Homo sapiens: one gene and its partner. The protein of the gene in region 1 purifies or fractionates together with the protein of each later gene. This does not show direct contact. Each region holds a gene or a part of one and is shown in the gene's direction. Other genes may lie near its edges.

What was found. Proteins that work in one complex are often made in the same cells at the same time.
Region 2: the proteins of MTMR9 (region 1) and MADD purify together in Homo sapiens (affinity purification with mass spectrometry; one large-scale study listed by BioGRID and IntAct). This does not show direct contact.

What each region holds. Positions count from the first base shown.
Region 1 is NC_000008.11:11,289,582-11,294,815, forward strand, and holds part of MTMR9 (myotubularin-related protein 9), read left to right. Parts: intron 1-5,234. UniProt on the Homo sapiens protein: Acts as an adapter for myotubularin-related phosphatases. Increases lipid phosphatase MTMR6 catalytic activity, specifically towards phosphatidylinositol 3,5-bisphosphate and MTMR6 binding affinity for phosphorylated phosphatidylinositols.
Region 2 is NC_000011.10:47,324,564-47,329,797, forward strand, and holds part of MADD (MAP kinase-activating death domain protein), read left to right. Parts: coding exon 1-14; intron 15-698; exon of another isoform or gene 699-770; intron 771-1,980; coding exon 1,981-1,989; intron 1,990-2,174; coding exon 2,175-2,244; intron 2,245-4,094; coding exon 4,095-4,141; intron 4,142-4,482; coding exon 4,483-4,587; 3' UTR 4,588-5,234. UniProt on the Homo sapiens protein: Guanyl-nucleotide exchange factor that regulates small GTPases of the Rab family. Converts GDP-bound inactive form of RAB27A and RAB27B to the GTP-bound active forms.

The sequences.
Region 1 (5,234 bases):
GTTGATTTTCTTCCTCCCTAATTTTCACTCCCGTTTCCTGCCTCATCCACAATCCCTGTAGGCAACCACGTTAGTTGTTGCTATAAAATAGATAGCACTATTGTGTATGGGTGTGCGCACACATGCATGTGTGAGTTTAATTTGCCTAACTGGGATTATGTTGTAGATCTTGTTCTGCTTCTTAATATGGTGACACAATACTGTTTCAAGATCTCTTCATATTGCTGTGTGTACAACCATTTCACTGCTTCTGACAGCATAGGATTCCAAAGTATCTAAAAGAGCTTCCTTAACAGACCTTTTAGGTAACTTCCAACTCCCTGCTATCACAAACAACTCTGGTAAACATACTCATTCATGTCCCTTTATATAGTCTTGTGCCATAATTGCTCTGAGACTGCCCCTAGGATGGGATGGCGCCATAAAGTAGGTGCGTATCTCATTTCACAAACTAATTGCTTTCCAGGATGACAATTGCACATTGCCTTCCCATGATGGTGCAGGAGAGGGTACCTCGTCTCCACTTTCTTACCAACATTTGGTATTGTCTTTCTAATTTTTCCAGTCTGAAGATTGTGAAATAGTTATTGCTTTGTTTTAATTTGAATTTCATTAATTATTAGTGTTTAATTATCTTTGTATATGCTTGTGAGCAGTATACTTAAAATTTTTTTTTTTCCTTTTTGTGAATTGCCTAATTTCTGTGGTCTACTTTTAAACATTGGGTTTATTGTCCTTCTCATGTTGATTTGCATGGGTACCTTGTATACTCTGTGGGTGTTCATTCTCCATTTAGGCATTACGAATGTTTTCTAGTGTGTCACCCATCTGTTGTTTTTTTCTGTGGTGCCCTTTGTTGAACAGAAATCTTTACTTTTAATGCAGAACTTGCCAATGTTTTGCTTTATGGTGTGTGGCTTGTCTTAAGAACTCCTTCCCTGTCCCCAAATCACCAGGATGTTCTCCTACATTTTCTTCCATAATAGCTTCATAGTTTTACTGTTCATTTTTAGGTCTTTAATTTGGATTCTATCTTTGTTTCAAGTGTGATAAGAACCTATTTTTCTCCATAGAGCAAGCCAGTTTTCTTAATCCCATCACGTGACAACCCAACCTTGGCTGGTTTATGTCAAGTTATCCTATATATACGGGTCTGTTTCTGAGCTCTCTGTCATAATCCATTGGTTCATTAATCTGCTCTTTTGTCATCATCATATTCTCTTTCCTTCTGTGGCTTTGTGATGTGTCCAAAAATCGGATAGTGCTAGTTGCCCCGCTTTCGTTTTTTTTTTTTTTTTTTAAAGTTGACAACTATGTTTCGACCTTTATGTTTCCATGCAATTTTGGAAAACTTGCTATGTTCATGGGATTTTTAAAAGTCTTTAATAATAATTGAAGACTCAAAGGCAGTTGCAAAAATTGCACATAGAGGTTTTAGAATCGTCCACTCAGCTTCCCCTAATGTTGACCTGTTTTATAACTGTAGTGTAATCAAAATGAGGACAAAATTAGGACATTGACATTGGTGCAGTACTATTAACTAGACCACAGACTTTATACAATTTTCATAGGATTTTAAAAAAATGAATTGTTTTGGATTTATAGATTAATTGGAGTCAAATTGACATCTTGACATCCATGAACAATGTTACATTATTTATTCAGATCTTCCTTTAAGTCCCTTAGTGGAACTTTAAGATGGTGTATATGCTAGGTGCTGTACTAGGAGCTGAGGATATAGAAATTAATCAAACATGCCTTCTACCTGAAAAAACTAAGACCATTATAAGAAATAAACATATAAACTAGAAAGTTTAATAAAGTATTTTAAATGCTGTGATAGGGATGTATACAGGGCATGGATGGGACAATAAGGACAAAATGATAAAATAGAACTGAATCTGACAATTGATGTGAATCATAGGAGTTTTGTGGAGCTCTTATGTTTTTAAAACATATTTTTCTTGGCCCACTGTTCTATAAGTAACTGACTAGAAACATTGAATAAATGAATGGAGAATACCTTAATAGTTTATAGCATATTTATTCTGACATAAAGTAACAATTATTTTTAACTCCTCTAGTCATTCATTATACTTTATAGCAACTACATAAAACCTGCCAGACTAACAAAACAAAATTCACCTTACAAAATGAGTTAGTATGACAAGCATAGATGATATGGAAATTTACAAGAGAATAACCGTATGTCTTGTACATTTTTTTTGTTTTTTTACTGACAGTTTGGTTGCTGTGTGTCTTTCACTTCCAGCTGAAGCAGAATGACAGTGATTTTTAAAACAGTTTTATTGAGGTACAGTCGACGTATTACACACTATATATATTTGAAGTGTAAACTTTGATGTGTGTTGATATATGTACACACCCTGAAACTGTCACCATAAGTTCAAGATAATGAATTTATCACCCCCATAAGTTTTGTGGTGCCCTTTCGTAATCCCTTCCTTCTTTTCTTTTCCAAGTAGTCACAGATGAGTTTGCATTATCTAGAAATTTATGTCAGTATATCATAAATCATGCAGTACTCTCTTTTGAGATTTGTCCATGTTGTATATATCAATAGTTCATTCTTTTTATTGCTGAGTACTAAGTGTCCATTTTGCAGTATTCCATAGTTCATTTATTCACCTGGTGATGGAAATGTGGGTTTCCAATTTGAGGCTATTAAATAAAGTTGTTTTTAATATTCTTATGCAAGTCTTTGAATGAACATGTGGTTTCTTTTCTCTTGGGTGGCAAGCCATTTACTTGCCAGTGGAATGGCTGGATCAGATGTAGGTATGTGTTTTACTTTTTAAGAAGCTGCCCCAACTGTTTTCCAAAGTGCTTGTACCTACAGTTCTACATACCTATGAGCAGTGTGTGAGAGTTCTATTTCCTCCACATTCTTGTCAGCATTTGCTATGGTCTGTCTTTTAAATTTTGGCAATTCCAATAGATGTTAAGTGGTATCTTACTGTGGCTTAAATTTGCATTTCCCTTATGACTAGTGGTGTAGGGCATCTTTTCATATGCTTATTTGCCATCCATATGTCTTTTTTTTGCTAAGTGACCATCCATATAGTTTTCCCATTTGTAATGGATTATTTGCTTTCTTACTGCGTTTTGAGAGTGTATGTTTGTATATTCATACACAGTCATGTGATTTATTATATATATGATGGTAGTCCCATAAGATTATAATGGACCTGAAAAGTTTCTCTTGCCCAGTGACGTTGTGTTTGTGGTGATGCCAGTATAAACAACAAACCTGGGCTGCCAGTTACACAACAATGTAGCACATACCATTGCATACATCACATAATATTTATAAACGATCATAAAACGACTTTGTTACTGGTTTATGTATTTACTATAGTATACTTGTTATTGTTATTTTAGAGTATACTGCTTATACTTCTAAAAAGAATGTTAACTGTAAAACAGCCTCAGGCAAGTCCTTCAAGAATTATCCAGAAGAAGGCATTATCATCACAGGAAATGACAGGTTCATGTATGTTATTAATATTTCCCCTGAAGACCTTCCAGTGGGGCAAGATGTGGAGATGGAAGACAGTGACATTGATGATCCCAACCCTGTGTAGGCCTAGGCTAATGTGTGTGTTTGTGTCTTAGGTTTTAACAAGAAAGTTTACCAACAAAAATTTTTTAATTGGAAAAAGCTTATAGAATGAGGATATAAAGAAGGAAAATATTTTTGTACAGCTGTATGGTGTGTTGTATTTTCAGCTTAGTGTTATTACAAAAGAGGTAAAACGTTAGAGATTAAAAAGTTTATAAAGTAAAAAAGTTACAGTAAGGTAAGGTTAATTTATTGTTGAAGAAAGAAACATTTTAACAGTAAATTTAGTGTAGCCTGTTGATGAAGTCCTCAATAGCCTACAGGAATGCCCCGTGGCTTACCTTTTCATGCTCTTTAACCCTGTGTTTCAAAGAGCAGACGTTTTACATTTTGAACATGTCCAATTTGTCAGTTTGTTCTTTTATAGATTGGGATTTTAGTGTCTTATCTAAGAAACCATTGCCTCACCTAAGGTCACAAATATTTTCTCTCATGTTTTCTTCTAGCAGTTTTATAGCTTTGGGTTTTACATTTAGGTAAAAGGTCCCATTTTGAGTTAGTTTTTGTATATGGTTCATGATTATAGATTCAAATTCTTTAAAAAAAAAAAAAGCTATCCAGTTGTGCCAGCACCATTTGTTGAAAAGACTGACCTGTCTTCAATTGAATTGTCTTCGTATCTCTGTTCACGTGTAAGTGGATCTATTTCTGGACTCTTTTTTTCTGTTCAGTTGATCTGTTATCATCATGTCATTTTCACACTGTCTTAATTACTGTAGCTTTATAGTAAGCCTTGAAATTGTGTAGTGTTAGCCATACCACTTTGTTCTTATTCAAAGTTGTTTTGGCTATTTGAAGACATTTGCATTTCCATATGAATTTTAGAATCACCTTTTCAGTTTCTACATTAAAGTCTGCTGTGATTTTGTTTGGAATTATGTTGTATCACTGGATGAATTTGGGGAATAATTGACAATAAAAAGAAAATTCTGGGTACATTTACACAATCGTCATCTGCAAATAAAGGTAGTTTTACTTCTTTTTTAATCCTTTTTTATTCTTTTTACCTTACTGCACTAGTTATAACCTTGAGTGCAATGTTGACTAGAAGTGGTGACAGTGAACATCTTTGTGTTATTCATGATTTTAGAGAGAAATAATTCAATCCTTCACCGTTAAGTGTGCTATTAGATTTAGGGGTTTTTTTGTGGGGTTTTTTGTAAATGCCCTTATCAGGTTGAGGAAGTTCCCTTCTGTTTCAAATTTGCTGAGAAATTTTTGGTTTTTCATGTTTTTAAATCAGAAATGGATGTTAGATTTTGTCAAATACTTTCACTTTTTTTTTTTTTTTTTTGAGACAGAGTCTCAACTCTGTCACCTAGGCTGGAGTGCAGTGGCTCAGACTCGGCTCACTGCAACCTCTGCCTCCCGGGTTCAAGCGATTCTCTTGCCTGAGCCTCCTGAGTAGCTGCATGCCACCACGCCCAGCTAATTTTTTGTATTTTTAGCAGAGACAGAATTTCACTGTGTTAGCCAGGATGGTCTTGATCTCCTGACCTCGTGATCCACCCGCCTTGGCTTCCTGAAGTGCTGGGATTACAGACGTGAGCCACGGCACCCGGCCCTTTTGCTTTTTATAAATTGATACATA
Region 2 (5,234 bases), on another chromosome or scaffold:
TCATGCACAATCAGGTAGGTGCGAGCGGCAGCACGAGGCTCCCTGTCGTTCCATCTGTAAGAAGGACCAATGTCCAAGCCCCCAGTACTTCCCCAGCAAGCATGAGAGAGGGCCCTCTGGAGCTAGAGGGAGAACTGGAGCAGCTGGACCCAGGAAAGAAACCCCAGGGGAGGGCACAGTGACGTTGGCGACCACCTGGCGCTGTGAAGGTGCACCAGGGAGCCCGTGGGGGAGGCTGGGCAGGAGCGAGGCCAGGTGGCCACGCTGCCCCATCCGTTGGACTCCACACAGTGTGAGTGGGAGCGTCTCACTTGGCCCTTCCCCTGCAGTGTCTCTGCCTTCCTCTATTCCCAGGATATGCTTCTGCTTGGTGGTTTTGCTTTGAGAGTCTAGACTGGCCGATCTCCTTGTGTCTTTCTGGTGTGCGTGCAGCTTGCGTGTGCGTGCGTGCGTGCCTGCGTGCTTGTGTGTAAGTAGCTTGTATCTGTCCTCTCTGGAGTGTGTTTATTTGCCTTTTTCTTCTGCGGATTCTTCTTCCTGTTCTTTTCCTTCCTCTGAGTGTTCCCACTCTGTCCCCTGCTCCACAGGCCCCATTCCCTTTCTTTTGATTGGGGAGCACTTGTGGATACATCTTTCCCTCATTGTAATTCCACCATAGGAGCTGACTTTTTTTTTTCTCTCTTGGTCTTTTAACACAGTGTTACCTTTTTCTCTCAGTGGACATTCCTTAAGCTAATTCCTTTCTGAGGCCAGCGCATCATCCCAGGTCCGTTCACAGCTCTGACTCCTCACACAAGTGCCTTCCCTCCTCTTTCCCTGATGTCCGGGTTCCTCTCCCTGAGGCTCTGAGCCAGACCCAAATGTGTGAAGCCCCACAGACCCTGGCCAGGCCGCAGACCCTCAGGGGAGGTGGATGCCTGACTGACGTGGCTGTCTCCCTCCCTCCGCTAGCCGTTGTAGCTCTCTTTCAGGAACGTAGCTGGGCAGCTTTGGTTTAACAGGAAATGGCTGCGCAGGCTGCCAGCAGCCCCTTAGTATATTTTCAATTTAGGACTTAGGGCAGTAGCCAACCCCAAAGACCTTAGGACCATCCCAGAGAGGGGTCTACCTAAGTGCTTTTCTGGACCACAAAGGTGTCAGTACTTCTTGGGGAGCAGACTTCTGACCACATTTTAGCGCCGTGGCCTCTGAAGATGAGATCTTGCTGAGCAACGCCCAGGTGCTCTGCCCTGTTCCTCGTCCTGCCCTTGGCATAGCCCCACTGGGCAGCCATCCAAGCCAGTCTGTGGTTGAAGGCTTGGCCCCTAGAAGATAGACTGCAGAGAAGGGGAGGAAAGCCCGGGTTCTCAATCTCACCTCACAGTTAGTAATGAGATAGCGACCTGCCCCCTATTCTGCCACACAGTGTTCAGTTGGAGTGGAGGAGGCAGCAGACCTCCTGGTGGAGCTGTGCAGTCTGGGGTAAATGGGAAAAGCACAGGCTTCGGTGTGAGGACATGCTTGGATTTGAAGCCCAGCTTCCACGTTCATGGGCAAAGAAACTTTCTGATCCATAGTTTCCTCATGTAGAAAATGGGGGTAATACTATTTACTGTGTCACGTAGTAGGTGCAGAGATTAGAAATCGTATTTGTAAAACCCCAAGTAGGTGCTCAGCAAGTGGTAGCTGATATTATTATCACCACATACCTCTTGGGAGATCCTGGATCCTGTTTCAAGGAGGATACCAACACCTCCCACCCTGAGGACAGTCTGAGGGGAGCTTTGCGCCCGTGCCAGCCCTCTGCGCCGGAGGAGGATGCATGGAAGGGTAGAGACCTAATGGGCTGAGTGGGGACCCCTGGGGCACTGTGTCTTACAAGCACTGCCCTGGGCAGAGGGTACGGGCGGGCAGCCCAGGCCAGCAGCAGGGCCTTCGGGTTGGGTTTGACCATTCAAACTAACGCCTTCATTTCTCTCCCATGCTTTCTCCTCCGGCCAGGAGCGGAAGGTACATGCCCTTTCTGCTATCTTCGCTTCTTAGCGCTTTTGAGTTGTGTGCGTGTGGATTCTTCTGTCCTCTCTTTGGGAAATAGACTTTCTTTGTGTGGGTGGGGCTGTAGCTGGGAGAGTGTGCTGTGTGGGGCAGGGGTGGAGCCTGTGGGCCTTACCCCGGCCTCCCTCCCTCTCTTGCAGGTTTTCATAGAGCTGAATCACATTAAAAAGTGCAATACAGTTCGAGGCGTCTTTGTCCTGGAGGAATTTGGTAATTACACTATTTTGCTCTTAGGTCTGGACTCACATGGCAGTAACTCAAACCTCGGAGCTCCAGAGGAGGGTCTAGGGGCAGGGAGAAGAAGAACCTCTGTAGAGAAGTCAGGAGGAGCAGGAGTGACAAGGAAGAAAAGGGACCCCTGAGATGAGAGCCGGGATGTGGAAGGGAAAGATAGATAATGGATCGCAGAAGAGCAAATGGGGCCTCAGGTGGGTTTCGAGTTTAGAGGTGGTCCTGAAGCAGCTCAGTGAAGTAGCACCACCTCCCCGTGCTGGGCCAGCCAGTGGTCAGAAAGTTTGGGACACAGCAGACTGGCGACCCCCAAGCTCCACTATGTCCATGTCACCTGCTGCAATCTCTCTAGCAGCCCAGTGCGCTAGCCAGCCTCCCTGGCGCCGCTCTGGTCTCCACCTGGCCTCTGTGCCAGACAAAGGGGCACCGGGCGTCGCAGGCAGACTCACTTGAGGGACAGAGGAGTCTAGCGGGACAGCTGTAGCCGGAAGCTGGGAGCCAGCGCTAGGGAGTGGTGTAGTGGGTTCTCACCCTGGGGCTTTGAGTTCCTGCTGTGTTTGTGCTTCATTCTTTTGTGCCCCTCATCGCTGCTATGAAAACCTTCGTTCTCCAGCAGGTAAAGTGACCTCGGCTCGTGCTGCCTCTCCCCAGGTCTCTGCCTTGGGCCCTGCCCTGGGTGGGTAGCTCCCATCGAACCAGCTCCTCACACTGCCAGCTCGTCTCTTCCTTTCTCCCCTACCCTCTTTCTTCCTACCTTGCCTCCCCCTTCTCACCGGCTCACTGGACTTTCCTCCCCGTGTGTTCCCTTCTCTCTTCTGTCAGAGAGATACTTGGGGGAATCTTCCAACTCGGGAGAATGGCCTGGGGCTTCTTGCTCTACCTTTGATGAGTTTATTCCCTGCTGACCCTGGGTTCCCCCAAATTCTACCTCCCAGGGTCAGAAGAAGGTACGGCCAATTCTCCTCCTGCCTTTTCTGGCCCCCAGGGAGATGCCAGGCCCCTCTGCTCCCAGTCTCAAGGGGCCATGATGGTGGCTGAGCCTGGGGGGCCTACTCCTTCCTCTGGCCAAGCAGAACCCCTGCATGGCTGGAGCGGGGGGACTCTCACTCTTGCCTTCTGGGCTGTGGACATGTGTGTATTTTGCCTGATGCTCCCTGTCACCTCCCTCCCTGGGTGCTGTACTCGCCTGTCTTCTGCTGGGTGTGTTGCTCCAGAGCCCTCAGACGCTCTCCCTCACACAGGCAGGTCTGGGCTTCTCCTGCCACTCAGGGAAGGACACTGCCACATCCTGTGGGTTTATATCATGTTACCTCTTCATCCAGCCTCAAGACCCTCTGTGTAGGGGGCTGGGAATAACGGGAACTGTGTTTAACATGACCCAATTTTCAGGCTGGTGACGAGTTCACGGGTGTCTCAGCAAAGTTGGACACAAGCTAGAGAGAGCTCTCTCCTCCCAGCCAAAACCTGGGAATTCCCCACTGCAGCTCCTCAGGGGCCCTGGACAGTAGCTGTGACCAGGCTGGTGAAAGGCCCGTCCCTCCCATCCAGGGCTTTCAAAGAAGTGGGTAGAATCACGGCCATCAAGTAAACGCCACTGCGGATGACAGAGGCCTAGCTGAGGAGGCTAGGGCCATGTCCTCCCAGCTGGCAGAGTCTGGACAGAGCCTCTGGTGGCCTCTGCCCTGTCATAGCCTAAGCTGCTGCAGCCACTGTGAGAGGCCACAGAGGGGAAGGGGACCCTGACGCCGGGCGCTGCCGCCTGGGGGAGCATGGCACGATTGCTCTTAGTGTTGAACTTTCTGTTTTGTCTCTTGCCCGTCCGGTTTTAGTTCCTGAAATTAAAGAAGTGGTGAGCCACAAGTACAAGACACCAATGGTGAGTGTGCCGCTCAACCCTGATGGGCCACGGTGCGCAGGGCTCCCTGGGGGACCTTCGGACAGGAGGAGGGGAGGGCCCTCTGAGCGCACAGGGGTGAGTGGGGACCTCGTTTTGTTGCCAAAGGTTCAACTCAGGCTGAAACAGGTCTTGAGCCCTGAGAGACAGACACACACACACGGATCCCCTCTCCCATGGGGACAGCTTCCTTGCTTGGAGCTCACGTTTAGCCCAGAGGCCCATGCCCAGTGTTAGGGCAGGAGTTGCCCATTGGCAGATCCTTCACATATGGAGATGGAGGAGTCTCAGTATCGTGATCCGCCTGGTTTTCTCTCCTCTAGGCCCACGAAATCTGCTACTCCGTATTATGTCTCTTCTCGTACGTGGCTGCAGTTCATAGCAGTGAGGAAGATCTCAGAACCCCGCCCCGGCCTGTCTCTAGCTGATGGAGAGGGGCTACGCAGCTGCCCCAGCCCAGGGCACGCCCCTGGCCCCTTGCTGTTCCCAAGTGCACGATGCTGCTGTGACTGAGGAGTGGATGATGCTCGTGTGTCCTCTGCAAGCCCCCTGCTGTGGCTTGGTTGGTTACCGGTTATGTGTCCCTCTGAGTGTGTCTTGAGCGTGTCCACCTTCTCCCTCTCCACTCCCAGAAGACCAAACTGCCTTCCCCTCAGGGCTCAAGAATGTGTACAGTCTGTGGGGCCGGTGTGAACCCACTATTTTGTGTCCTTGAGACATTTGTGTTGTGGTTCCTTGTCCTTGTCCCTGGCGTTATAACTGTCCACTGCAAGAGTCTGGCTCTCCCTTCTCTGTGACCCGGCATGACTGGGCGCCTGGAGCAGTTTCACTCTGTGAGGAGTGAGGGAACCCTGGGGCTCACCCTCTCAGAGGAAGGGCACAGAGAGGAAGGGAAGAATTGGGGGGCAGCCGGAGTGAGTGGCAGCCTCCCTGCTTCCTTCTGCATTCCCAAGCCGGCAGCTACTGCCCAGGGCCCGCAGTGTTGGCTGCTGCCTGCCACAGCCTCTGTGACTGCAGTGGAGCGGCGAATTCCCTGTGGCCTGCCATGCCTTCGGCATCAGAGGATGGAGTGGTC